Linked DNA regions of Homo sapiens: regions 2 and 3 are each linked to region 1. The links come from fine-mapping of genetic effects on plasma protein levels. A gene starts in region 1. Each other region holds a variant in brackets. All regions are shown on one strand. Distances are from middle to middle.

Region 1 (9,780 bases):
GAAAAGATACCCAAAACCGTGGAAGCAGTTTTGGAACTTGGTAACAGACAGAGGTTGGAACAGTTTGGATGGTCCAGAAGAAGACAAGAAAATGTGGGAAAGTTTGGAATTCCCTAGAGACTTGTTAAATGGCCTTGACAAAAATGCTAATAGTGATGTGAATGATAAGGTTCAGGCTGAGGTGGTCTCAGATGGAGATGAGGAACTTGTTGGGAACTGGGGCAAAGATGACTCTTCTTATGTTTTAACAAAGAGACTGGTGGCATTTTGCCCCTGCCCTAGAGATTTGTGGAACTTTAAACTTCAGAGAGATGATTTAGGGTATCTGGCAGAAGAAATTTCTAAGCAGCAGAGCATTCAAGAGATAACTTGGGTGCTCTTAAAGGCATTCAGCTTTTTAAGGGAAGCAGAACATAAAAGTTTGGAAAATTTGCAGCCTGACAGTGTGATAAAAAAAAAGAAAATCCATTTTCTGAGGAGAAATTCAAGCCAGTTGCATAAATTTGCATAAGTAGCAAGGAGCCTGATGTTAATCCCCAAGACAATGGGAAAATGTCTCCAAGAGATATCAGAGACCTTTGTGGCAGCCCCTCCCATTACATGCCCAGAGGTTTAGGAGGAAAAAATGGTTCTCTAGGCCAGGCTTAGGGTCCCTCTGCTGTGTGCAGCCCTGCGTTGAAGACACTCCAGTGGCTGAAGGGGGCCATGGCTTGGGCTATGGCTTCCGAGGGTGCAAGCCTGAAGCCTTGACAGCTTCCACATGGTGTTGAGCCTGTGAGTGCACAGAAGTCAAGAACTGAGGTTTGAAAACCTCAGCCTAGATCTCAGATATATGGAAATGCCTGGATGTCCAGGCAGAAGTTTTCTGTAGGGGTGAGGTCCTCATGGAGAACCTCTGCTAGGGCAGTACAGAAGAGAAATGTGGAGTAGGAGCCCCCACACAGAGTCCCTACTGGGCACCACTTGGTGGAGCTGTTAGAAGAGAGCCTTCATCCTCCAGAACCCAGAATAGCAGATCCACAGGTAGCTTGCACCATATGCCTGAGAAAGCCACAAACACTCAGTGCCAGCCTGTGAAGGCAGCTGGGAGGGAGGCGGTACCCTGCAAAGCCACAGAGGTGGAGTTGCCCAAGACCATGGGAACCCACCTCTTGCATCAGCATGACCTGGATATGAGACATAGATTCAAAATATATCATTTTGGAACTTTAAGATTTGACTGCCTTCCTGAATTTTCGACTTGCATGGCATCTGTAGCCCCTTTGTTTTGGCCAATATCTCCCATTTGGAACAGCTGTATTGACCCAATGGCTGTACCCCCATTGTATCTAGAAAGTAACTAACTTGCTTTTGATTTTACAGGATCATAGGTGGAAGAGACTTGCCTTGTCTCAGAGTGTGGACTTTTAAGTTAATGCTGAAATGAGTTGAGACTTTGAGGCACTGTTGGGAAGGCATGATCAGGTTTGAAATGTGAAGATATGAGATTTGGGAGGAGCCAGGGGTAGAATGATGTAGTTTGGCTCTGTGTTCCCACACAAATCTCATCTTGTAGCTCCCATAATTCTCATGTGTTGTGGGAGAGACCTAGTGGGAGATGACTGAATCATGGAGGTGGGTCTTTTCTGTGCTGTTCTCATGATAATGAATGAGTCTCTTGAGATCTGATTGTTTTAAAAATGGGAGTTTCTCTGCACAATCTCTCTTTGACTGCTACAAAGATGTGACTTGCTCCTCCTTGCCTTCCACCATGATTGTGAGGCCTCCCCAGCCACGTGGAACTATGAATCCAATACACCTCTTTCTTTTGTAAATTTCCCAGTGTCGGGTATGTCTTTATCAGCAGCATGAAAATGAACTAATACAGCACACCTCAGCATTAAAAAAGCATCCTGCCTCTGGTTTTAGCAGAATTGAGCTTGGTTTCTACTGGAGTTTCTTTTCTCTATTGGAATAGCCCAGATAAAGTGAGTCTTGCCACTTTTAATAAATATTCAGCTCTGTTTCTCTTTAACACTATTCTACAGGATCATAAGTTTAATGTACTGGTTACTTAAAGAGAAAGGAGCCTACATAAGACTGTATTTTCAACCGTATAACTGTGTCTATACATTTTTACACAGTTTGCATGTGACTGGGTCAATACATACGGTGAGTGTATTGTTTGCTATGGCTGCCGCCACAAAATACCACAGACTGGGTGACTTAAACAACATAAATTTATTATATTTTCACATTTCTGGAGGCTAGAATTTCAAGATCAAAGTGACAGCAAGTTTGGTTTCCTCTGAAGCTTCCTTCTTGGTTTGTAATGGGCAAGTTCCCACTGTGTCCTCATGTGGTTTTTCCTCTGTGTGTGCATCACTAGTGTCTCTTTTGTGTGTCCAAATTTCCTCTTCTAGTAAGGACATCAATCAGTTTGGTCTAAGGCCTAACCTTATAACCTCATTTTAACTTAACCACCACTTTTACTTATCTCCAAATATAGGCACACCCTGAAGTAGTGGGGTTTAAGGCTTCAACATATAAATTTTGGGCAGACAGAGTTTAGCTCTTAACATTGAGTACCTGAGACACATTAGTTACAGTTGTAGGCAATGTGGTTACTACGGTGTGTAGTGTTTAAGAAGCTGGGCTCTGGAGTTTGAATGCCTTTATTACATTGACTGTGATCATTTGCAAGATCACTGCTTACAAGCTGTATGACCTTGGAAAAGTTATAGAATCTCACCAAACCTCAGTTGCTTTACCTGTAAGAATAAAATGATACTTAATCTTTATATTTATTGTTGTACCTAAGTGCATGAAATGTGTTAGCAAATTTTATTTCTTTACAATTTTTTTTTTTTTTGAGTTGGAGTCTTTCTCTGTCACCCAGGCTGGAGTGCAGTGGCGTGATCTTGGCTCACTGCAAGCTCCGCCTCCTGGGTTCATGCCATTCTCCTGCCTCAGCCTCCTGAGTAGCTGGGACTACAGGTGCCCGCCACCACGCCTGGCTAATTTTATTATTGTTAGTAGAGACGGGTTTTTCTTTTAGTAGAGACGGGGTTTCACCATGTTAGGCAGGATGGTCTCGATCTCCTGACCTCGTGATCTGCCTGCCTCGGCCTCCCAAAGTGCTGGGATTACAGGAGTGAGCCACGGTGCCCGGCCTACAAATTATTTTGTAAAGATAATCTTTTTCTAACTTTGCTATAAATCTAACAGTTTCATTCTTCCCTACTGTAAACACACACACACACACACACACATATTACACATATAAAATTTGCAATGCTTTTTTGCTAAAATTAGGTAGACTTTTTTTTTTTTTTTTGAGAAAGAGTCTTGCTCTGTCGCCCAGGCGGGAGTGCAGTGAAGTGATCTCAGCTGACTGCAAGCTCCGCCTCCCAGGTTCACGCCATTCTCCTGCCTCAGCCTCCCGTGTAGCTGGGGCTAAAGACACCCGCCACCGTGCCTGGCTAATTTTTTTGTATTTTTAGTAGAGACGGGGTTTCACCGTGTTAGCCAGGGTGGTCTCAATCTCCTGACCTCGTGATCCGCCCATCTCGGCCTCCCAAAGTGCTGGGATTACAGGCGTGAGCCACCACATCCGGCCGGTAGACTCTTAGGTACTTCAGGATTAATTTGTTATGATTTATTGAAAGACTGTAGCTCCTCAAACCTCTGTTTTCTATTGTCAGGATAAATCCTAGGAGACTTTAAAATGCACTAAATTTTTGAGTGATAAACAGTGTGGGGCCATGGGTCAGGGGTTCAAGTAATATCAGCTATAGGGAGAAGCTGATTGTTGTTTCTAAAATAAAATATAACCCATATGAAAATATTAATACAATTAAAAATTAGACATTGAAATTCCTGTCTTCTTAATCCTAATCTAATAAAAGCAGTAATTATGTCTGTAAATAGCAGGGTCTATATACTCAGTAAACAAACAATGCCCATCCCATTCTATTATTAGATAAAATGAGAGGCTTATCTCTAGTTTCTTAGTCTTTCCAGACAAACAGAAAGGAATTCCTACAGAGAGAGTGAAGTTAGTTGGTAATGCAACATTACCAGATAAGAAGATGAGTAAAGGCTGTTTTCCAGTTAGTGTCTTTTACAAAGGAGAATATAGGCCGGGCGCGGTGGCTCATGCCTGTAATCCCAGCAGTTTGGAAGGCCAAGGCGGGTGGATCACGAGTTCAGGAGATACGAGACCATCCTGGCTAACACGGTGAAACCCTGTCTCTCCTAAAAATACAAAAAAAAAAAAAAAAAAAAAAAAATTAGCCAGGCACGGTGGTGGGCGCCTGTAGTCCCAGCTATTCCGGGAGGCTGAGGCAGGAGAATGGCATGAACGCTGGAGGCGGAGCTTGCAGTAAGCCGAAATTGCACCACTACACTCCAGCCTGGGGGACAGAGTGAGATTCCGCCTCAAAACAAACAAACAAACAGGAGAATATAGACATGTTAGATTGATGGGGGAAAATATTAGAATTATAGAAAAGAAAATAAAAAAATAAAAAAGAAATTATTTCATCTTTTAAGATATATTAGAATATATAAATTTTACTCATGGTCACAACATACCTCTTTTTGCCCAAGTGATTGTGTATGTGTGTCTGTGTGTGTGTGCATGCATAGGGCTGTATCTAGTTTAAAGCACTGTAACGTCTGGATTCTCTTTTTTTTTTTGAGATGGAGTCTCGCTGTCTCCCAGGCTGGAGTGAAGTGGCGCGATCTCGGCTCACTGCAAGCTCCGCCTCCCGGGTTCACGCCATTCTCCTGCCTCAGCCTCCGGAGTAGCTGGGACTACAGGCGCCCTCTGCCACGCCCGGCTAATTTTTATGTTTTCGGATTTTTAGTGGAGACGGGGTTTCACCATGTTAGCCAGGATGGTCTCGATCTGGATTCTCTTTGAACGGTATAAAAGTCTGTGAGATGGCCGTGGGGAAACTCAGAGAAATTAAAGGTATAAAATGTAAGAAAGTGTCAAGGCTGAGATGACCATCCCAGCTAGTTCCTACTGCAGGTTTCTTTTATGACACCAATTTTGGCTGGTAAAGAAAAGATAATAACACCTAATTGGCTGCCTCACAACACTGCATAAACAAATCAAAAGAGCTAATGAATGGCAGGTTGTTTTGAAAGCTGTGGAAGGTGATCTAATCATAAAAGACTATAGTTATTTATTAACTATTATCGTCATCAAGGCTCCCTCTGTGTAGAAAAACAGAAGACTTTAGGAATGATATGGTAACTTTATATTTTGGAAATAACCTTTGTTTGTAGTAACATTACTGATCTACAACAATCTTTATAATTTTCTCATTTCCTCCCCCTGTATCAGTATCCTTCAGATTCTGCCAACCTCATAAATGCGTAAGGTTGTAAAATTCATAGTTTTTATTATCTAAGCCCACTCATTTCTAATGAGAGGAAAAAAGTTTCTACATGTTTGATGAATAATTGAAAGAGTTAAAAACAAGGATGATATTTTGAGTTAGAAGAATACCTTGATAACCTAACTCTGACCCAAACCTGAGTTCTCCAAACCTTCAATCCCATTCATTTAAATGTAATATTCATGGTGATTTTCAGGAATGAGGAGTAATTAACAGAGCATGTGATGAATCACCTCTGGCTTTACAACATTCCTAAAATGAAATGGAGAAGAAGCCCTAATGAAATGAGCCAGCTGATGAGTACTTCCAATTTTGGGGGTGCTCACTGAATCTTCTTTTTACTACTTTCTCCATTTGGAAAAGATATCAGTTTCAAACTTTTTATTCATCATTTCAGAAAAGGCTGGCATCTCTGAGGAGCTCTTTTCCAGTAAGAAGGAAACCAATGTCTTCAATGTTTCCTCATAGTAGAGATTCCTAAGACAGGCAATCATCTTTTGGTTCTTCTGTTCCACCCTAGCACCACTTCCACTCCTGGGAATATTCTCCATTTGGGCTAGGCTAGGGGTCACTAGAGCATAATACACAGTCATTGATTCCATTTTAAGGCATCAAACTCTTTTACCGTCAATAACAGAATATATGGTTGGGACACATTTCGTATGGTCTGACAGGGCAGATGAAAGATAAAAAATTAGTATTGATATGTGAATATTTAGAAGAGGCTTTTAGAGAAAGAGACAAGAAATCAATGCTGATTGAAACAGAGCAATGGTTTTCGTTAAGTTTTAACAGGTGATGTTTCGATTTGTTTAGGCATTATGGTTTAAAATACAATTAAAAGGGAAAAAGAGAACATATATCGTTATAGTTTAATTTCACCTCAAATTGTGTTGGGGTAGTTTTTCTATGCTGAGTAAATATAAATCTATTGGTGAAATCCACAGTCAACAGATGTTTACTTTTCTTGGTATCTTAGAAATTATCTAGTACAACCACGTTATTATAATTATGTAAAAATGCAAGACCAGCTATCATTAACTATCAAGCTTATCACATAAACTTGATAATTGTTCTAAGCACCTCTCTCTCTCACACACACACAAACACACACGCATTATATATATGATTTATCTCTAAACCTCTTAGCACTAGTACAATGTACGTGTTATTATTTTTATTTTACATATTAGGAAACTGAGGCTTAGAGAAAATAAGTGACTTGTCCAAGGCAACATGGCTAACAATTCAAGATTTGGACCCATTTCTAGCTTGCTTCAAAGCTGGGTTCATTTCTATCCCTACATAGTTGAAAAGACTACATAGAATAGAAACAGATTTCTGAAACCCTGTCTCATTCTCTTTCCATTAAGCTATGATGGACTTTGATTTTCTAACCTGTAACAATAATGGAATTTGAACTTGCTTTCCGTGGTCACTAATTTTACTATTCCATTGGAAAGGAGCCAAGCTACAACAATAGTGCAGACCTTGAAACCAATGATTTTATATATATATATATATGTGTGTGTATATATATGTATGTGTGTGTGTGTGTGTGTGTGTGTGTGTGTGTGTATATCTTTTTTTTTTTTGATGGAGTTTTGCTCTGTCGCTGAGGCTGGAGTGCAGTGGCGCCATCTCAACTCACACACCCTCCGCCTCCCGGGTTCAAGCAATTCCCCTGCCTCAGCCTCCAGAGTAGCTGGGACTACAGGTGCGTACCACCAAGCCCATCTAATTTTTGTATTTTAATAGAGATGGGGTTTCACCATCTTGGCCAGGATGGTCTCGATCTCCTGACCTCATGATCCGCCAGCCTTGGCCTCCCAAAGTGCTGGGATTACAGGCGTGATACACTGTGCCTGGCCCAGTGATTATATTTTTATAGGAAATAAATTATTTCATGAGAGAAAAAAGAAAGGACGTATTATCTCACTGTGATAAATCTCATAATATTGGCATACTCCCTAAGTTGGGCAACTTTGATCAGTTTTCTGGAACCATCATAAAAAGGCCTTTAATTGGATAAAGTCTCGAACTTTTCTTCTGTGGATGTGAATATCTTGAGAAGTACTGGAATGAAACAATTTGGCTCTGGTTTCAGTCATCTTCACATGTTTCTTCAGGTGCTTTCTTAAGCTATTAGGGCAAAATAAGCTGGTAGAAAAAAGGTGTTACTTGTAGGATGAAAGAAGCAACTAAAGAGAAGAAACTTTCTCTAGAAAAATGTTACATTTACACATTTATAATTGTTAACAACTTTTTTCTTCTTTTCTTTTTGGGAGACTAAATAATGGGATGATACAGGAAGAAATATGATTTAGAGAAAACTGATTGAGCCAAATTTTTCAAACGGTAATATGGGTAATCATAGGCTATGGAAAGTTAAACTGAGTCTCCAATGTTTATGATTATGATGTTTGGCTAGGATATAAAATAAGGCTTCAGAATATAAAATATCCTGCAGATTGAGAAGTTTTAAAAGTAGTTACATACAAGTTTTATTTTTCCAACGTTCCTGCCTTTTCTAATGTCTAAGGATGAAGCAGTGTACAGAGAGGAAAGAATGTTATATGTGTGGTCTGCTTGCAAGTGCTGGATGCCTCCTCTGCCTGCTCCAACTAAACTGTCTGCTTATGAGAAAGTCATTGCTCCTCTGAGTTCCTGCCTCCCTATATATTCAACATTAGAATTTTGCCAGGTTATCTTTTAGGGTCGTTCAACTCTAACATATATATGAGTCTGTGACACTGAACTCAGACACTTCAGAACAGGAACCCTGGATTTCTCTGGATGTGGAAATCTTTAAATCTATACCTGACTGGTAGGACAACCAATCTGTCTTCCTTTCCTCTCCTCTCCCACTTATGAAGGGAGTCCAGTCAGAAACATGTTTGTCTACGAGGTAGTATATCTGGTATTTCTGAGGAATTCGGTTATTATATAGGATTATAGAATATTCAACTTTGAGTAGGGTCTGTGGACTCCATCAATTGCGTTCTGGGGGAGGTACCATGAAAGAACATTCCTACTTTAGAAATAGATATTCTCTGTTCAAACCTGACACCCTGACAGGATCCTAAAGGATGGAAGCTAAAGTGGTGTGGTATATAAGTCCCATGACCTTGAACAACTGGTTTTATGTGGGTGTCACCAGTGCTTTATAAAAGTAAACTGCATCGCCCCGAGTTCAGTCATACTGCACCAGCTGAGCAATGCATGGAGTGGACCTGTAGGCGACTTGCATCGTCTTCAACATGAAGATAGCCACAGTGTCAGTGCTTCTGCCCTTGGCTCTTTGCCTCATACAAGGTGAGCAATTTGTGTGTAATCTAAGCCTCTTGCCACACATCTCAAAGCCCTGGGGAAGGGACTTTTCTCCCCCTACTCCTGCCAAAAAATGTTTACGTATGCATGTATAATCCTGAAATGTCTTGCCAGACACAGAGTTCTGAAGATTTATATATGTGGCTTTATAATTATGTTGTTATCTTTAGAAATGGCAAGTAGTTTGAGATAATCTGAATTTTCTAACCATGAGAAATTCTTCCATTAATTCTTTATTAATTCAGAAAACTGAATAGATTCTTCTTCATCTTCCTCTTGCTAAATGTATCAATTCATAATGCATATTCTTATATATGTAATAGACATTTAAAACTTAATTGTAAATAATATATGTATTTTAATGTTATAGGTATAAATGAAATATTTTTTAAAATTCAATCATCTGTTCTTATTTTAAAGCAGTGGTATCTTCTAGCTTATTTTAGTCTTGTGTTTTCAAATGCTAAATGGGTTGAAAGCATTTCTCCCAAAGAGTGAGGGACTTTTGTGGGAGCTGGAAGGTAGATTTTTATATTTGCTATTTAACCCTAAGAGAACACAAATTGCCTAGACTTACGTTGCTCTGAAACATTAAAATTTTTAAAAAGAGAAACTCATAGATAGTCTGAAATCATATACAAATAATGCCCATTTTCCTAAAATAGGTGTGTAGGTACAAAAGAGCCTATGTTAATGAGAGAGTATAATAGCCTGTGACCTTAATCTTACCTTCTGTCAGATCTCTAACTTTTGCAGCTGTAATAAGGAGGTAGAGCTGCCAGAATTCAGAAAATTAAATTTTATGTATATATCCTATAAATGTAATGCTATATTATAGTTTCAACTATAATATAGTTTCAAAATTATAATTGGTATAGTATTTTGTGTGTATGTTATATTGTAATTTTAAAAGGGAGGCTGGCATTTATTACTCCGAAAGGACCTTTTGAAGATAAGCTATTTTGATGGGGTTAGAATTCACATGAGTATTATTTTCCAAAGTAATTGTAACTTTCTGAGTGATTAGACCTTTGTGAGTATATATACTAATCTCCTGGTC
Region 2 (5,120 bases), 68 kb after region 1:
ATGGGATTTTAAAAATAAGTCTTTAGAATTAAAGCCCTCAAATTGAGAACACCTGATATAGTAGAAAGAACACTGAGACTTGGAGACAAAAATTCCGTATGTAAGTTCTAACCAAGATGTATACTAGCTGTGTCATTAAACAATTTGTTTTCAACTTTCAGCATCATAATTAGAAGAAATTCTTCAAGATCTTTATTCCACAACTAGATCAGACTCAATTGAGATGCCTTTAAAAATAAATACAAATTTTTACACCCCAAAATATATTATATCAGAATCTTGGGGCTATGGAATTTGTTTTTTAGAAAGAGTTTCTAGGTTATTCTAAAAAGCAAATAGAAATGGAGACCAATGGACATTATAAATGATGATGATGATGATGATGATGATGGTTGTAAAGCACACTGTGAACACAACAATAATCAAATTTCTTTAGCTTTTCATAGTGAGTGTTCTTTGAGGGGGAATTACCAAATACTACTCCCATTTTATGTTCTAGAAAATCAAAACTTCAGAACATTAACCCACTTGTCATCTGTTAAGTGATGAAAGTTCTAAACCAGCTCCTAATTGTGTACTTTTCTTAATATGTCATCCTGGTCACTATCTCAATGTTCTGTGATTCTGTTTTATTTATTTATTTATTTATTTATTTATTTATTTATTGAGACAGAGTCTCACTCTGTTGCCCAGGTTGGAGTGCAATGGTGCGATCTCAGTTCACTGCAACCTCTGCCTCCTGGGTTCAAGAGATTCTCCTGCCTCAGCCTTTCGAGTAGCTGGGATGATAGGTGTGCACCACCATGCCCAGCTAATTTTTGTATTTTTAGTAGAGATGGAGTTTCACCATGTTGGCCAGGCTGGTCTCCAACTCCTGACCTCAGGTGATTCGCCAGCCTGGGCCTTCCAAAATGCTGGGGTTACAGGCGTGAACTACCATGCCTGGCCTCTGTCACATTTTATGAGGATTGCTTAACTTCTCACTGGAAGTTATAGGAACTGTTTCTTATTTTAAATTATTTTTTATTTTCTTCTCTAGTCTAACAGAAGCTTTGGAAAGGGCAAAGCTTCAAGAAAAGCCATCCC[A/G]TGTTAGAGCTTCTCAAGAGGAAGACAGCCCAGACTCTTTCAGTTCTCTGGTAAGGAGGACTATTTCTGAAAAGCTACTTATCAATTTAATTTTCTTGATTTTTTTTGACCTGTTGCTATTTGCTATTTTCATAGAAGGGTCTGAGGTTTGCTGATTCAGTGCAGCCTGAAGTCCTTTGAGGACTATATGCAGTTTATGCTTGGTGAGAGTTCTGGGATTTCTCATTAGTGCCTTATCCTGTGCCCTTTGAGATTATTTGCCCTGCTTCAATTTAGTACATTTTGAAATTTACAATGTGTGTGTGGAATAATTGTGACTAATTTCACATATGGTAAAATACATAGTCAGGTGCCTCAATTCTGTAATTTTAGCATACCTCTTGGTATTCTTAGCTTCCTCACCTAGCTTCCGCTTATTTCCCTCCTCCAACCAAATCTGTTTCTACATCCTGGAACTCTATGCCAAGCATGCTCACAGGTATAAATTTCCGCCAATTAGCAATTCGCAGTAGCTAAAGCTTCTTGTTTAAAATATAGGCTGAGCTGGGTGCGGTGGCTCATGACTATAACCCCAGCACTGTGGGAGGCCAAGCGGGCAGATCCCTTGGCCCCAGGAGTTTGAGACCACTGTGGGCAACATGGTGAAACTCTGTCTCTAGAAAACTTACAAAAAAAAAAATTAGCTGGGCATGGTGCCTTGTGCCTGTAGTTCCAGCTACTTGGGAGGCTGAGGTGGAAGGATGGCTTGAGCCCAGGTGGTCGAGGCTACCATGAGCCGTGATAGTGCCACTGCACTCCAGCCTGGGTGACAGAACAGGACCCCACCCTTCTCTCTTCCTCTCTCTCGTAGCTGATGGTCACCAGTAATGTAAGTATTAGTCTACATTAGCATGATAAGATTTACTTTGTAGAGCCTTCACAAGATGAGGAGTAGAAAGGAGCAAAGAGGATATGAGAACATCAAGCAGATTCTCAGATTGGGCCCTAAAAGGAAGATTTTAGCACCTAGGCTGATGACCCAGAAAAGGAGAAAGAAAGGTATCAAACATGAATTTTACTTCATTATTCACCCAATTCAACTAGGGTAATAGATGAGTTACATACATGAAATATGCATTAATTACATATTTCTGGTAAATTGAGCTCCACATCAGGGATCCGAAGGCATGGAGAAGAGCTATTAACAAAATATGTTTTTTTTTTTAAATACTAAAGTATAATAGTTACATAGAAGAAATGTACATATGCAAGTAAATAGCTAAATGAAATATCACAAAGTGATCATACCTGTGATAGCAGCAAGAAATAAGATATCATCAGCAGACCAGTAGCCCCCTCATTCTCCCTCATAAGCTACAGTCTGCTTTGGAGCTATTTCTTTTGGAGAAATAAATCTTTCATTATTCATTTTTTTCATCAAGCCGGCAGTCCTTTTGTCAGTCTACAAATACTTACTGAGCACCTGCTATTTTTCCAGGCATTATTTATTTACTTATTTATTTATTTATTTATTTTCTGAGAGGGAGTCTTGCTCTTTCGCCCAGGCCGGAGTGCAGTGGCGCGATCTCGGCTCACTGCAAGCTCCGCCTCCGCAGTTCACGCCATTCTCCTGCCTCAGCCTCCCGAGTAGCTGGGACTACAGGTGCCCGCCACCACGCTAATTTTTTGTATTTTTAGTAGAGACGGGGTTTCACTGTGTTAGCCAGGATGGTCTCGATCTCCTGACCTCGTGATCCGCCCGCCTCGGCCTCCCAAAGTGCTGGGATTATAGGCGTGAGCCACCGCGCCCGGCCTCCAGGCATTATTTACGTATGCTAGGTTAATAGCCATAAACAAAACAGATAGCGCTCACTACATGAAGTTCATAGTATATTGGAAAAGCAGATACAATAAATAATATGAATAAATGAAAAAATAATGCCAAGGAGGAAATAAGGCAGAAAAAAATGGTACAGTAAATTCTGAGATGGGGAGGGGAGGGGATACAATTTTAAGTGACATATACAGAGAATAACTCTCTCAGAAGGTGACATTTACATCAAGACCTAAGGGTATTGATTCTGTAGGTATATCTGAGGAGAACATATTCCAGAGAGAAAACATAGCAAAGCGTTTAGTGTTGTTGAAATAGAGCTACCTCAGCTGTAGAAGAGGAAGTCAGGAAGCTAATGGGAGGCCATGTTATAAAGGGTTTTGTAGACAATTTTAAAGACTTTGCCTAATATTCTGAATGAAGGTTCTGAGAAGACTAATATGATTTGATTTATGTTTTAAAGGAATAACTTTGCCTGATACCTATTGAAAACACTGCAGGGAGGCAAGGGCTGGACAGCTAGTTAGCTATTGCAGTTGTCTACAGAAGAGATGATGCTGGTTTATACCATGTTAGTAGTGGTGGAGCTCTTGAGAGGTGGTAAGATACTGGGTCTGTTTTGAAGGTGGAGTCAACAGAATTTTTTGAGTTGATGTACTATGTTAAAAAAATGAAGAGAGAGAGAGAGTAAGGAACATTGTAGTACCTTTTGAACATTATAGCACCAGTTACCTGAAAAAATACAATTGATATACCTGGTTGAGTCTAACCTTTGCCAGGGTTTCATATAAGTTACTTATCTAAATTCTCTGTGAATATTTGTACCAATATGGAACTCACCACAATCTAAAGCAATTCATTTAGGTGTTTGAATCATTTATCAAAACAAAGGAACAAGTACACAAATACTGCTTGACTCCTCCAAAATGAGTATTAGCAGATATAATACTATTAAATTTTCTATGTCGTCTTTGTATCTGTTTTCAGTAAGTAGTTTTCAAGGAATTTATTAATTTCATCTATGTTGTCAAATTTTTTGGCATGTAGTTATTTATAACATTTCTAAATTATTCTTTTAGTATCTACAGCTCATATAGTGATGACCTGTTATCTCTAATATTGGTAATATATGTTTTCTTGACTCTGGTCAATTTTGCAAATAGCTTATCAACTTATTCTTTTCAAGCAGCTAACTTTTGGCTTTGTTCTATTTTCTATTTCATCAATTTCTCCTCTTTATTACTTATTTTAAAAAATTTTCTATGCTCATCATTGGCTAGCTCCTTCAGATGAAAGTTTAGATCATCCATTTTAGAACCTCTTTCTTTTCTAATATATGTATTAAAGTTATAATTTTCCCCCAAATTACTGCTTTGGCTGCTGGGATTTGATAGGTTGTATTTTCTTTGTGATTCATTTCATTTCTAAATTCTATGATTACTTTGAGTCATGAGTTATTTAGAACTCATCCTTTTACTTATAAATATATTTCTTATAAATATTATATAGTTGATTCTTTTTGTTCTTCCAGTTGGATAATTTCTGTCTTTTAACTGGAGTACTTACTTCTTAATATTCTATGTAATTACTGATACCATTGGATTTAAGTCTTCCATCATCCTATTTGCTTTTGAATACTTTTTTTATATTTTGGCTCTACTTTTTGCCTTTTTAAAAAACTAATCAAGGTCTTGGAATTATCATTAATTATTAAACTCATACTTCCAAAACACTACGAAGAGCAAATATGTTTCTTCTTTTACATGGAAAATATACATATGTTTTTTACCGTGGAAAACATACTAACAACTAAAATTTACTGAACACTTAGTATGTGACAGATACTGCGTTAAGCATGAACTTACATGCATTATCTGTTTTAATCCCTTCAAGCAGTAATATAAAGTAAGGACTACTATTATTTATGATTTTCTGGTGAGAAAATTAAGGCTGAGAAAAGTTAGATAAGTTACTTCTCTAGTTAGTGGTAGAGCTAGGACTCAAAAACTCATGCAATTTATGAGTATTTACCTCTGAGTCTTTCCTTTCTAGGCTGTATATAACCAATACCTTCACTTAAAAAGGCGAATATTATTTCTGGCATGCCTATCATTCTAGATTTCTTCTTATGGGCAGGTAATTGTGTCACATATTATAAAGGATATTTGCTTTCTTATTGCTTTGCTACTCCTTGTTTCTTTGTTTACTTACCTTGTCAAGT
Region 3 (10,681 bases), 28 kb before region 1:
TACTCCCCAGTACTTGACATTGTGTGTCTTTTTAATTTTAGCTCTTTGAGTAGGTGTGTTATTTCATTTCAATATTAGTTTGCATAGATTTGATTATTTATGATTCTTTGTATCTTTTGATATGCATATTGGCCTCTTGGATATTCTCTTTTTTGAAGTTTTGGTCAAGCCTTTTGCACATTTATTAATGGATTGTTTTTCTTTTTTTAACAAATGCATAAGAGCTTATATAATATGTTAAATATGTTAGCTATGTCAGAATTTATGTATTGCAGGTTTTTTATCCAGGCTGTGGCTTATCTATTTACTTTCAGAATATTTTTTGACAAACAGAAATTTTTACTTTTGCTTTGTTGATTTTTTCTTTTGTGATTTGTCTTTTTTATGTTCTATAAAGATTTTTTTCCTACCCCAAGGTCATGAAGGTATTTAATCATATTTTCTTCTGGAAGCTTACTGACTTTGGCTTTCACATTTGGGGTATGAGCCACCTCACATAAATTTTGGGTTATGCTGTAAGTTCAGAGTCAAAGTTCACCTTTTTTTCTCATATGTATATCTAACTATTTCAGTCTTTATTGAAAAGACCATACGGTTGCCACTGAAGAGAACTGGTGCTTTTACCTAAACCAAGTGACTGTTTATGTGTGAGCTGTTTCTGGTTTCACTATTCTTTTCCGTTGATATGTTTTTCTACCTTTGCACTGAATCCATACTGTCTTAATTACTGTAGCTTTCTAGAACACGCTGGAATCTTGTATTTCTTCCTCTTCTTTAACATCTTCCTGTCTATTTCTACATAAACTTTGGAATCACATGTCAATTTCCACATGCAAAAAGTGTCAACCTTTTTGATTGGGAGTATATTGTACTTATAGATAAGTTTTGAGAGAATTGATATATTGAATATTTAATTTTTTTGACCCCAAAACATGGAATACTTCTTTACTTATTCAGATTTTAATGTCTCTCAGTAGTGCAATGGTACTTGCACTACTTTCTTAAGATTTACTCATAAATGTGTGATTTTCTAAAAATGCTGCTGTAAATAGTTCCTATTTTATCTTATTTTTCAATTATTTATTGCTAGTATATAGAGATACAATTGTTTTTTGTTGTTGACCTGGGTCCAGTGACCTTGATGAATTGATTTATTGATTGCAATAGTTTATCTTTTTATTTGATGTTGTATGTCCACAATTATGTCATCTGTGAAAAAAAAAAAGGCAGTTTTACACACTCCTTTCCAAACATTGTAACCTTTTCTTGACTTATTGGAATGGTTAGAACTTACTTTATAATGATGCATAGAAATAGCAGCCGTTGATGCTCTTTTTGTATTTCTGACCTTTTGGGGCAAGCGCTAGCATTTCACTATTGAATGCAACAATTTCTCTCTCTCTTTTTTTTTGTACATATCTTTTCTAAAAATCAGAATTAGGAAATTCCCTATAGTGCCATCTTCCAGTTTACCAATTCTTCATTCTATTGTGTCCAGCAGTTTCGTAACTTCATGTGTTATCTTTTTAAGTTCTGGAATGTCATTTGATTAATTTTAAATCCTCTATTTATGTGTTTAAGTTCCTCATGCTTTCATTTATTTTGTTCATGTTTTCTTTCAAATAACAAATGTATTAATCACAGTGAACCAAAATTCTGTTTCTACTACTTACAATATCTAGATTATTTTTACTTCTGCTCCTTTCGCATATTTTTCTCTTGCTAATTGGTTTTATTTTGTTACCATGTTGCTTGTCTAGTATTTTGTAAAATAGTATTTTGGACATAGTATATGATGTAATTATAAAGTCTCTATCTAGATGATACCATTTTCCACCGGTACTGTTGAATTATTCCTCCATTTCAGTTTTTTCTTTTAGACAGGATGAGAGCCTAATCACATAAATGTAATTAGGGGTTAAATTATCTAAAACTGGGCCGGGCACGATGGCGCACGCCTGCGATCCCAGCATTTTGGGAGGCCGAGGCGGGTGGATCACCTGAGGTCAGGAGTTCGAGACCAGCCTGACTAACATGGTGAAACTCTGTCTCTACTAAATACAAAAAGAAAAATTAGCCGAGCATGGCGGTGCATGCCTGTAATGCCAGCTACTTGGGAGGCTGAGGTAGTAGAATCACTTGAATCTGGGAGGAGGAGGTTGCCATGAGCCAAGATCATGCTATTGCACTCCAGCCTGGGCAACAAGAATGAAACTCTGTCTCAAAAAAAAAACAAGAAGTTATCTGAAACTAAACAGTTTCAGTGAAACCCATTCTACACTTGGATTGTATTATAGTCTTTCTGGACTTTTGATTGAGAGACTGTTGGGTGTAGGCCTTCAAAAACTGAGGGAGATCAAGTTCTGCTTTTCAAAGATTATCAATTTAATGGTTTTTGTGGTCAGAGAAAAATGCTTTGTGCAACGAAATCCTTTCGAATTTGTTCAGATTTATTTTACAGCACATAATATGATCTATCTAAATGTTGTTCCATGTGCACTTGTAAAAAATGTAACGGCCAAGTTGGTAATAGTGGTAAAGTCTTCTGTAGCTTTTCTGATTTTCCTTTACTTGTTCTATTTATGACTAAGAAATGGCTGTTAAAATCTCCAAGTCTAATTGGGATTTGTCTATTTCTTTTTCAGTTTTATCAAGTTTTGCTTCATTTATTTGATACTGTTGTTAGATGCAAACAAATTTAACATTATAATTTCTCTGTGACTTAATTTCTTTTTCTTTTTTTTCATTGTATTCTCATTTTATTTCGTGTTTCTTTTTTTTAATTTTATCATTTTTATACTTTAAGTTTTAGGGTACATGTGCACAACGTGCAGGTTTGTTACATATGTGTACATGCACCATGTTGGTGTGCTGCATTTTACCCATTAACTCGACATTTAGCATTAGGTATATCTCCTAATGCTATCCCTCCCCCCTCCCCCCACCCCACAACAGTCCCCGGTGTGTGATGTTCCCCTTCCTGTGTCCATGTGTTCTCATTGTTCAATTCCCACCTATGAGTGAGAACATGCAGTGTTTGTTTTTCTGTCCTTGTGATAGTTTGCTGAGAATGATGGTTTCCAGTTTCATCCATGTCCCTACAAAGGACATGAACTCATCATTTTTTATGGCTGCATAGTATTCCATGGTGTATATGTGCCACATTTTCTTAATCCAGTCTATCGTTGTTGGACATTTAGGTTGGTTCCAAGTCTTTGTTATCGTGAATAGTGCCGCTATAAACATACGTGTGCATGTGTCCTTATAGCAGCATGATTTATAATCCTTTGGGTATATACCCAGTAATGGGATGGCTGGGTCAAATGGTATTTCTAGTTCTAGATTCCTGAGGAGTCGCCACACTGTCTTCCACAATGGTTGAACTAGTTTACAGTCCCACCAACAGTGTAAAAGTGTTCCTATTGCTCCACATCCTCTCCAGCACCTGTTGTTTCCTGACTTTTTAATGATCGCCATTCTAACTGGTGTGAGAGGTTATCTCATTGTGGTTTTGATTTGCATTTCCCTGATGGCCGGTGATGATGAGCATTTTTTCATGTGTTTTTTGGCTGCATAAATGTCTTCTTTTATATTGCATAAATATATGCATAAATATTCTTCTTTACCCCTGGTACTATTTCTGGTTCTGAAATCTATTTTGTCTAACATCAATATAGCCACTGCAGCTTTCTTTTGATTAAAATTTACATTGTACATATTTTCCATCTTTTTACATTTAATCTATGTTTTTATGTTTAAAGTGGATTGGCTATAGATATTATATAGTTGAGTCTTTGCTTTTTTATTAAGTCGATTTCTGCTTTTTATTCAGTAAATACTGCCTAAGTGAAGTATTTAGACCAGTTACATTGAAGGTAAATATTCATAATACTGGATTTGGATCTATTATCTTACCATACATTTTATAATTTTTTTTGCCTTTTTTTGGTCCCTTTCCTGCTGTCGTTGGATTTTCTTTTTAATGATTCCATTTTATCCCCACTATTGGCTTAATAGTTATGTATCTTTTAAAAATTTGTAAGTTTTATTTTAGTGTTTACAATATATGTCTTTAACTTGTACAGTCTACTATTAAATATTATACCATTCCATTTAGTATGTAATAATCTTACAGTAGTATACTTTCACTTTCTTCCATCCTTTGTGCCATTGTTATATATTTCACTCCTCCATTTGATAAACCTCAAAATATATTTAACTATTTTTTTAGAGCCTCACATCTTTAAAACATGTTAATAATAAAAATAATGTTTACATTTGAGTTTGGGAGTTAGTAAAAGTGGAATCTCATCTCATTTCATTTATTTTTAGTCCGGGTATCCTTGACCGAACTTGATGCTTTCCCACATCCTTGAAAAAGAGCTATCTCTTCCTTTCTATTTATAGCAAGATGTTGAGATGATCACTGAGACCTGCAAAAAGATTTGTATTCCTCAACAAAAATCTTTTCATAAATTAATGAACTTTTATTTATTGCTGCAATATGTAATTTATACTTCTTGAAACCTGTCTTTGGAAAAATTCCAATGAAGAATGAAATGCCCCCTTTCAGGGGGCAACTTATGATTTATTAACCCAGTGAGACTAACAAACTAAAATTTTATTAATGCAGCATAGTTGCCAAAGTATATAGAAACATTCTATATATTCTATGTTTCTGCTTTGTGAGATTTTAGTAAACATTCTAATCTAGGAGGATTTGGTGATCAAATGGTTTTAGAAAATGCTACAAACTTTATTTTCCTGCAGGAATTTCATTTAGCTGAATCTCTTTGGTCTAGGAATATTTTTTAGCACTTAAACAGAAGTTCTGCAGACAAGCAAAGTTACTTAATTTGCTTAAACTAAAATTGGCAAACACATTGGACTCTAGAAAGCTTTTTTCTTTTTTTTTTTTTTTTCCTGAGACAAGGTCTTGCTCTGTCGCCCAGGCTGGAGTGCAGTGGCGCGATCTTGGCTCACTGCAACCTCCACCTCCCGGGTTTAAGCGATTCTCTTGCCTTAGCCTCCTGAGTAGTTGGGATTACCGACATGTGCCACCACATCTGGCTGATTTCTGTATTTTTATTAGAGATGGGGTTTTGCCACGTTGGCCAGGCTGGTCTTGAACTCTAGGTCTCAATTGATCCACCCACCTCAGCCTCCCAAAGTGCTGGAATTATAGGCAGGAAACACTGCACCCAGCCTAGAAAGCTTTTTTCTATTGGTACAATTGTAAGTATCTCATTTTTTATTGAATGTATTTTGAGGATTACTGATTTAAAATATTCAAATGTTTTTCATTTTTATCATTCCTAGATTTAGAAAAGATAAATAATTTATATTTAATTCTATCTACCTTATTCACCCCCTTAAAAATCCATTGAATGCCTGCCATGTGCCAGGCATTGTAATTTATACAAATAATGGTATTACTGATCTTTGAGTACAGATTATCTGGCTTCAAACTCAATATTGGTTTTACTTTGCTTTATGCACTTTATCACAGGGGCCTCCATCGAAACTTATTCATAATACCAGATATTTCCAAGGCATTACAGCATGGAAATGTAAAATCTAATTCTAGCTCTTTCCATATTATATGATCTTGAGAAAACTTGCTCTCTGCTCGGTACCTCAATTTTCCTTGTCTCCAATTCTAAACGTAATTCTAAATCTACCAGAAAAGCATCTCTAGGTATTATTCAATAAAGAATGCAATTCAGACAGGAATATAGGCAGGTTTTTTTTTTTCTTTTCATTAATGCATGCTCTATATACATTAAAATTTGCAGATCTTAAGTATACAATTTGATAATATTTATGTAAACATGTATCTGTATAATCGCCATTTAGATCCAAGTGTAAAACATTTCTATTGCCTCAAAGTTTTCTTTGTGCCTCATTATGGTCATTGCCTCTTCCCCCCAGACACAGACATTGCTGTTTGAACTTCTATTACTATAGGTTTGTTTTGTCTGTCTGGAAGTTCTTATAAAGGGAATTATATGCCATATAATCTTTTGTGTCTGGCTTCTTTCACTCCATATAATGTCGCTGAGAGTCATTCAAGTTGCTACCTAGTGTTTTAATGCCAGTAGGACTTCAGTTTCTTAACCTATACAATGAAAGGGATTGGGCTAGATGAACTCTGAAGATTTTTTGAATTCTGAGAATGAGAGGCTCTTTCCACTGTTTTGCAATAATTAACATGCAGGAATTCTGACCTGATTCAGTTGCCATGATACCATGACA[A/T]TATTGGGAATGACAGCTTTGAATGTGTCATCCAGTGAGAGGATGACATTGCATGTCTGGGCGTGGAACATTTTATGCACCTCTGTAATGTAAGGTCAGAAACTTTTGTAGCTCAGGATGACCTTACTGATTTCTGAGCCCTCCCACATCTAGCATTCTTCCCATGTGACATATTAATTGAATTGTCTATATCACATTTCTAAAAGTCATTGATAAAGAGACTTAAAAGAAGACTTTATGCAAAGCTTCTGCCTAATTATGTCTTGGTAATCTCTCTATGTGTAGTGTTTAGGGGTCATCTATGGGATCAGACAGACTCATATTCAAATCCTGGTGCTTCACTTCTATCTGTGAAACCGTGGGCAAGTTGCTTAAATTCACTGAGTCTGTTTCCTCACCTGGAAATGAGGGTAATGATAGCTACCTCACAGTGTTGTTATAAAGAACTGAATGAGTTAATGCATGCAAAGTGTTCATAGTGCCTTGAACTTGAGTACTGCTCAGTCAAGGACAGCTGTTAGTGCTGCAGCTTCTCAGCAAAATCTGTTATCTTGTGCTCCTGCAATTCCTCACTGAAGTTCCCTTTCTGGGACAGTCCTGTGTGTTCACATTTGCTGGGACAAAAGTGAGTGTAAGCAGTGAGTAGTGAACAGCCACAGGATTTTAATCAATCCTGTGAAGAGGGAAACTTTCCATAGAGAATGAACTGGGGCAGTTAAAAGAGAATGAGCAGTGACTGGAGGATGGAAGCCTTGGGTTCTAATGACTTCCTTAGTCAAGAGAAGTTTCATGACCTTGATTGTGGCACTAAATCTCTTTAGAATAAACTAAATAGTGTAACACTTTTGAGCAGTGATCCCCAACCCCCGGGGCCACAGACTGGTATTGGCCCATGGCCTGCTAGGAACTGGGCTGCACAGCAGAGGGTGAGCAGGGTTTAAGCAAGTGAAGCTGAGCTCTGCCTCCTGTCAGATCAGTCATTAGATTCTCATAGGAGCATGAACGCTATTGTGAACTGTACATGCAAAGGACCTAGGTTGCATGCCCCTTATGAGAATCTAATGATAAACGTAATACACTTGAATCATCCAAAACCATTCCCCCCCCCAACCCTTGTCCACAGAAAAATTGTCTTCCACAAAACCGGTCCCTGGTGCCAAAAAGTTTGTGAATCACTGGTTTAGAGAACAGTTGTTCATTGGTATCTTTGGGGGATTGGCTCCAGGGCCTCCCCCATATAAAAATCTGCAGATGCTCACGTCCCTCATTTAAAATGGTGAAGTATTTGCATATAACTTAGGCATTTCTTCCTGTATACTTTAAATCCTCCCTAGATTATTTATAATACCTAATACTATGTGAATGCTATGTAAATAGTTGTTATACTGTATGGCTTTGAGAATAACAACAAGAAAAAAGTTTGTACATTTTCAGTACATATATGCAATTTCTTTTTCAAATATTTTTTATCTGTGCTTGGTTGAATCCACAAATGAGGAACCCCATAAACATGAAGAACTGACTATATGTGTTTCTGGTTCAAACTCTGTTCTGCCACTTACTCTCAAATCCTTCAAACTCTCCCAAAGGAAGTTTTTCCATATTGGAAAGCAAGATAGTACGGAAGTTAAGAAAATGAGTCTGGATTCAGATGAATTGGATTTGAATCCCAAAGTTGCCATTAACAATGTGTAAAATCTCAGACAAGCTAATTTATTTCTCTATTCATTGGTTTCCTGATCTGTAAAATGGGTTGTTGCAAAGATAAATTAAGAATACTTTTAACAGTGCCTGGCACAAAATAATTAGTCAATAAATGTTAGATATTATTCACAAAATAGGTATCATGCTACCTCTTCAGATTACTGAGGATACTTAAATGAACTAAGGTTAAATGACCAGAACAAATCTTAATTATTATCAACATTGTAATTTATGAAAACATGGCTGGAGATGTAATGAGATTTGAGGCAAAATTGAGATCATCAGGAGAAAATTAATAGATTTACTATTTCTTAAATGGAAAAATAAGAAAAATGAGTGGGAGAAGTTATATTTATGGTTTATAATACCTATGAAAAGAATGCTTTTATTTTTGCTCTGAAGTAGGAAAAACTAAATATAAGTTCTCAACTCAGCCAATAAAATAATAATAACATAGGCAATAATACTGATAACAATAAGTTTAAAATGATATTTTCATGAAGTAAAAACCGAGAGAGAACATGCAATTCTTTCTCAAGTGAGGTCCTTGCTTTGTGGAGCTTCTATTCTGGTGGGAAACACAAATAGTAGAGAAGTAAATAGGTTAACAAAAAGAAGACTTCAGACAGTAATTATTGTATAAAGAAATGAAAATAAGCCATTTCATTAAAAAGCAACTGGTCTTGGGGATGTAGTAGAGGACAATCTGCTTTAGATTTGGTTGTAAAGAAAAGTCTCTCTGAAAAAATAATATCTTAAGTTGAGCTGTGTATAATAAAAAGGAACCAGCCACTCTCAAATCAATGGCAGGGGCTTTCCAGGCACAAGAAGCACCTGCTATAAGATGCTAAAGTGGAAGTGAGCTTGGCACAGTTGAGAGATAGGAAGGGGACTGATCATAGCAGAATATTATAAGTGAGTGGAAGAAACAATAGTACAAGTTGACATTAGAAAAATTTATTTGCAACTTGTAGGCCACAGCTGGGAGTGTGGACCTAATGCCACATGTGAAGTTTGATGGAAAACCATCAGAAGTCTCTAGGCTGGTTGTTTACTTAATCTCATTTATTTTTTAAAAGGCATGTCAGGCTGCTATGTGAAAATCCAGATAGTGGCAAGGAAGCTAATGAGGAGGCCAGAGCAGCAGTCCGTGTGAGAGATGGTGGTGTCGGTTTCTGTGAAGAGATTCATGTTGTAGAAGAAGAGTCAATAGGACTTACTGAGAGATTAAACAGAAAGGGCTCATAAGAATCCTACGTTTTTGGAGATGGTATTGAAGCTGGAGACATCTTCTAAGCTAGGCTGTGGTAATGGAATGTTAGAACTGGAGGGTTGATAGGCTGAAGTCTAAAAAGCTGCATGATAGATATCCTATGCTGAATTTTGCCATTTTTCTTTGGGTGTATGTTTAAGTTTCTGTTGTTATTTTGTTTTATTTATACATATATATATGTTTGTGTATATATACTTAATTTTAATTATTTAATTATGACATAGCTATCGTCAATATCCAGAATTTATATATCTGTAAACAGAGGCAAGAAGAGGCAAAATAACTTATTCAAGTTTACACAGTTAGTGATTAACTATATGACCATTTAAGATATTTATGGACCCTCCATATTGCTCTTCCAAAAGGCTGCACCAATACACACTTTCCCTGCACCATATAAACAATGCTCATCTCCACAAACTCTCCCAGCATTGCTAGTGTTTTTCTTTTTAAGCCTTGTGAATCCAAATTGAATCCTCTTTCTGGTCATTAAGGACTGCGGGCCTTCTCTTTGGCTAATTTTGAATCTTTTGGGAGGGAGTCGGGAAGAGGATTATCAGAGAGAACAAGAAATGAAATAATAATAATAATAACAATAATAATATTGAGAGTTTATAATTGCCAGGAACCATTCTAAGCACTATATACATATATACATGCATATACACACATGTATACATATATATACACATGTATATAAGTATATATGTATATACATGTATACATATATACACATGTATATACTTATATATGTACATGTATATACTTATATGTATACATGTATATATAAGTATATACATGTATACATATATATACACATGTATATACTTATATATACTTATATACATGTGTATATATATGTATATAATACTTAGAATGGTTCCTGGCAATCATAAACTCTCAATAAGTATACTTATTTATACATACATATGTGTATATATACTTAACTTTAATTATTTAATTATGACATAGCTATCATTAATATCCAGAATTTATGTATCTGTAAACTGAGGTAAGGAGAGGTAAAATAACTTGTTCAAGTTTACACAGTCAGTGACAGATGCAAAGCTAGTCATTTACCTGCAGAATCTGTGCTTTTAATCATTATCTGCTACTGACAACCTACAAGACATCTGGTTGGTGAATGTTTCATTTACACAAAGAAAACAGTGTAAGATAGTTTATGTGGTTCAGGTATTAGAAACTCTAGTAGTTAGGAAAAAATACACACAAGCTGAATAAGTCAGTATTGATTTAGTTAGGATTTGATTGAAATACTGAAAGGGAAAAACTTTCTCTACTCTCTGTGTTTCTGTTCAGGTGTCTTCATTATCAGAATATGTGTGGCTTAGCCAGAAAAACCATCATCCTCATTATCACCATCACTACCAACTCCTGAGTGCCTACTATATTCTGGGCCCTTAGCTATAAGCACTGGAGATATTATGG

Direction of the effects. Positions count from the first base shown, and alleles are read on the strand shown. Strength reflects both the effect of a copy and how common the allele is.
In carriers of allele A in region 2, the plasma level of the protein whose gene starts at base 8,586 in region 1 tends to be higher than with G alone (weak association).
For the plasma level of the protein whose gene starts at base 8,586 in region 1, allele A in region 3 goes with a higher level than allele T (weak association).

Evidence for each region. PIP is the posterior inclusion probability: the model's chance that the variant is causal. Protein levels are from antibody-based Olink assays in UK Biobank. Linkage for the fine-mapping came from a reference panel and not from the study's own genotypes, which makes the PIPs less certain.
Region 2: its variant is fine-mapped to the plasma level of the SPINK5 protein (UK Biobank, PIP above 0.99). The variant lies in the coding sequence of SPINK5. If it changes the protein, the assay may bind it differently, which can mimic a change of level.
Region 3: its variant is fine-mapped to the plasma level of the SPINK5 protein (UK Biobank, PIP 0.98).

The regions. Positions count from the first base shown.
Region 1 is chr5:148,055,395-148,065,174 of GRCh38, forward strand. It overlaps SPINK5 (serine peptidase inhibitor Kazal type 5), which reads left to right and starts at 8,586. Exons shown (of 33, transcript NM_006846.4): 1 at 8,586-8,705. The coding sequence starts at 8,651.
Region 2 is chr5:148,125,944-148,131,063 of GRCh38, forward strand. It overlaps SPINK5 (serine peptidase inhibitor Kazal type 5), which reads left to right. Exons shown (of 33, transcript NM_006846.4): 30 at 1,040-1,136. Among named protein-coding and RNA genes, the nearest start is that of SPINK14, 40 kb to the right of the region's middle. The variant A/G (reference allele first, on the strand shown) is at 1,087.
Region 3 is chr5:148,027,070-148,037,750 of GRCh38, forward strand. No RefSeq gene overlaps it. Among named protein-coding and RNA genes, the nearest start is that of SPINK5, 32 kb to the right of the region's middle. The variant A/T (reference allele first, on the strand shown) is at 6,256.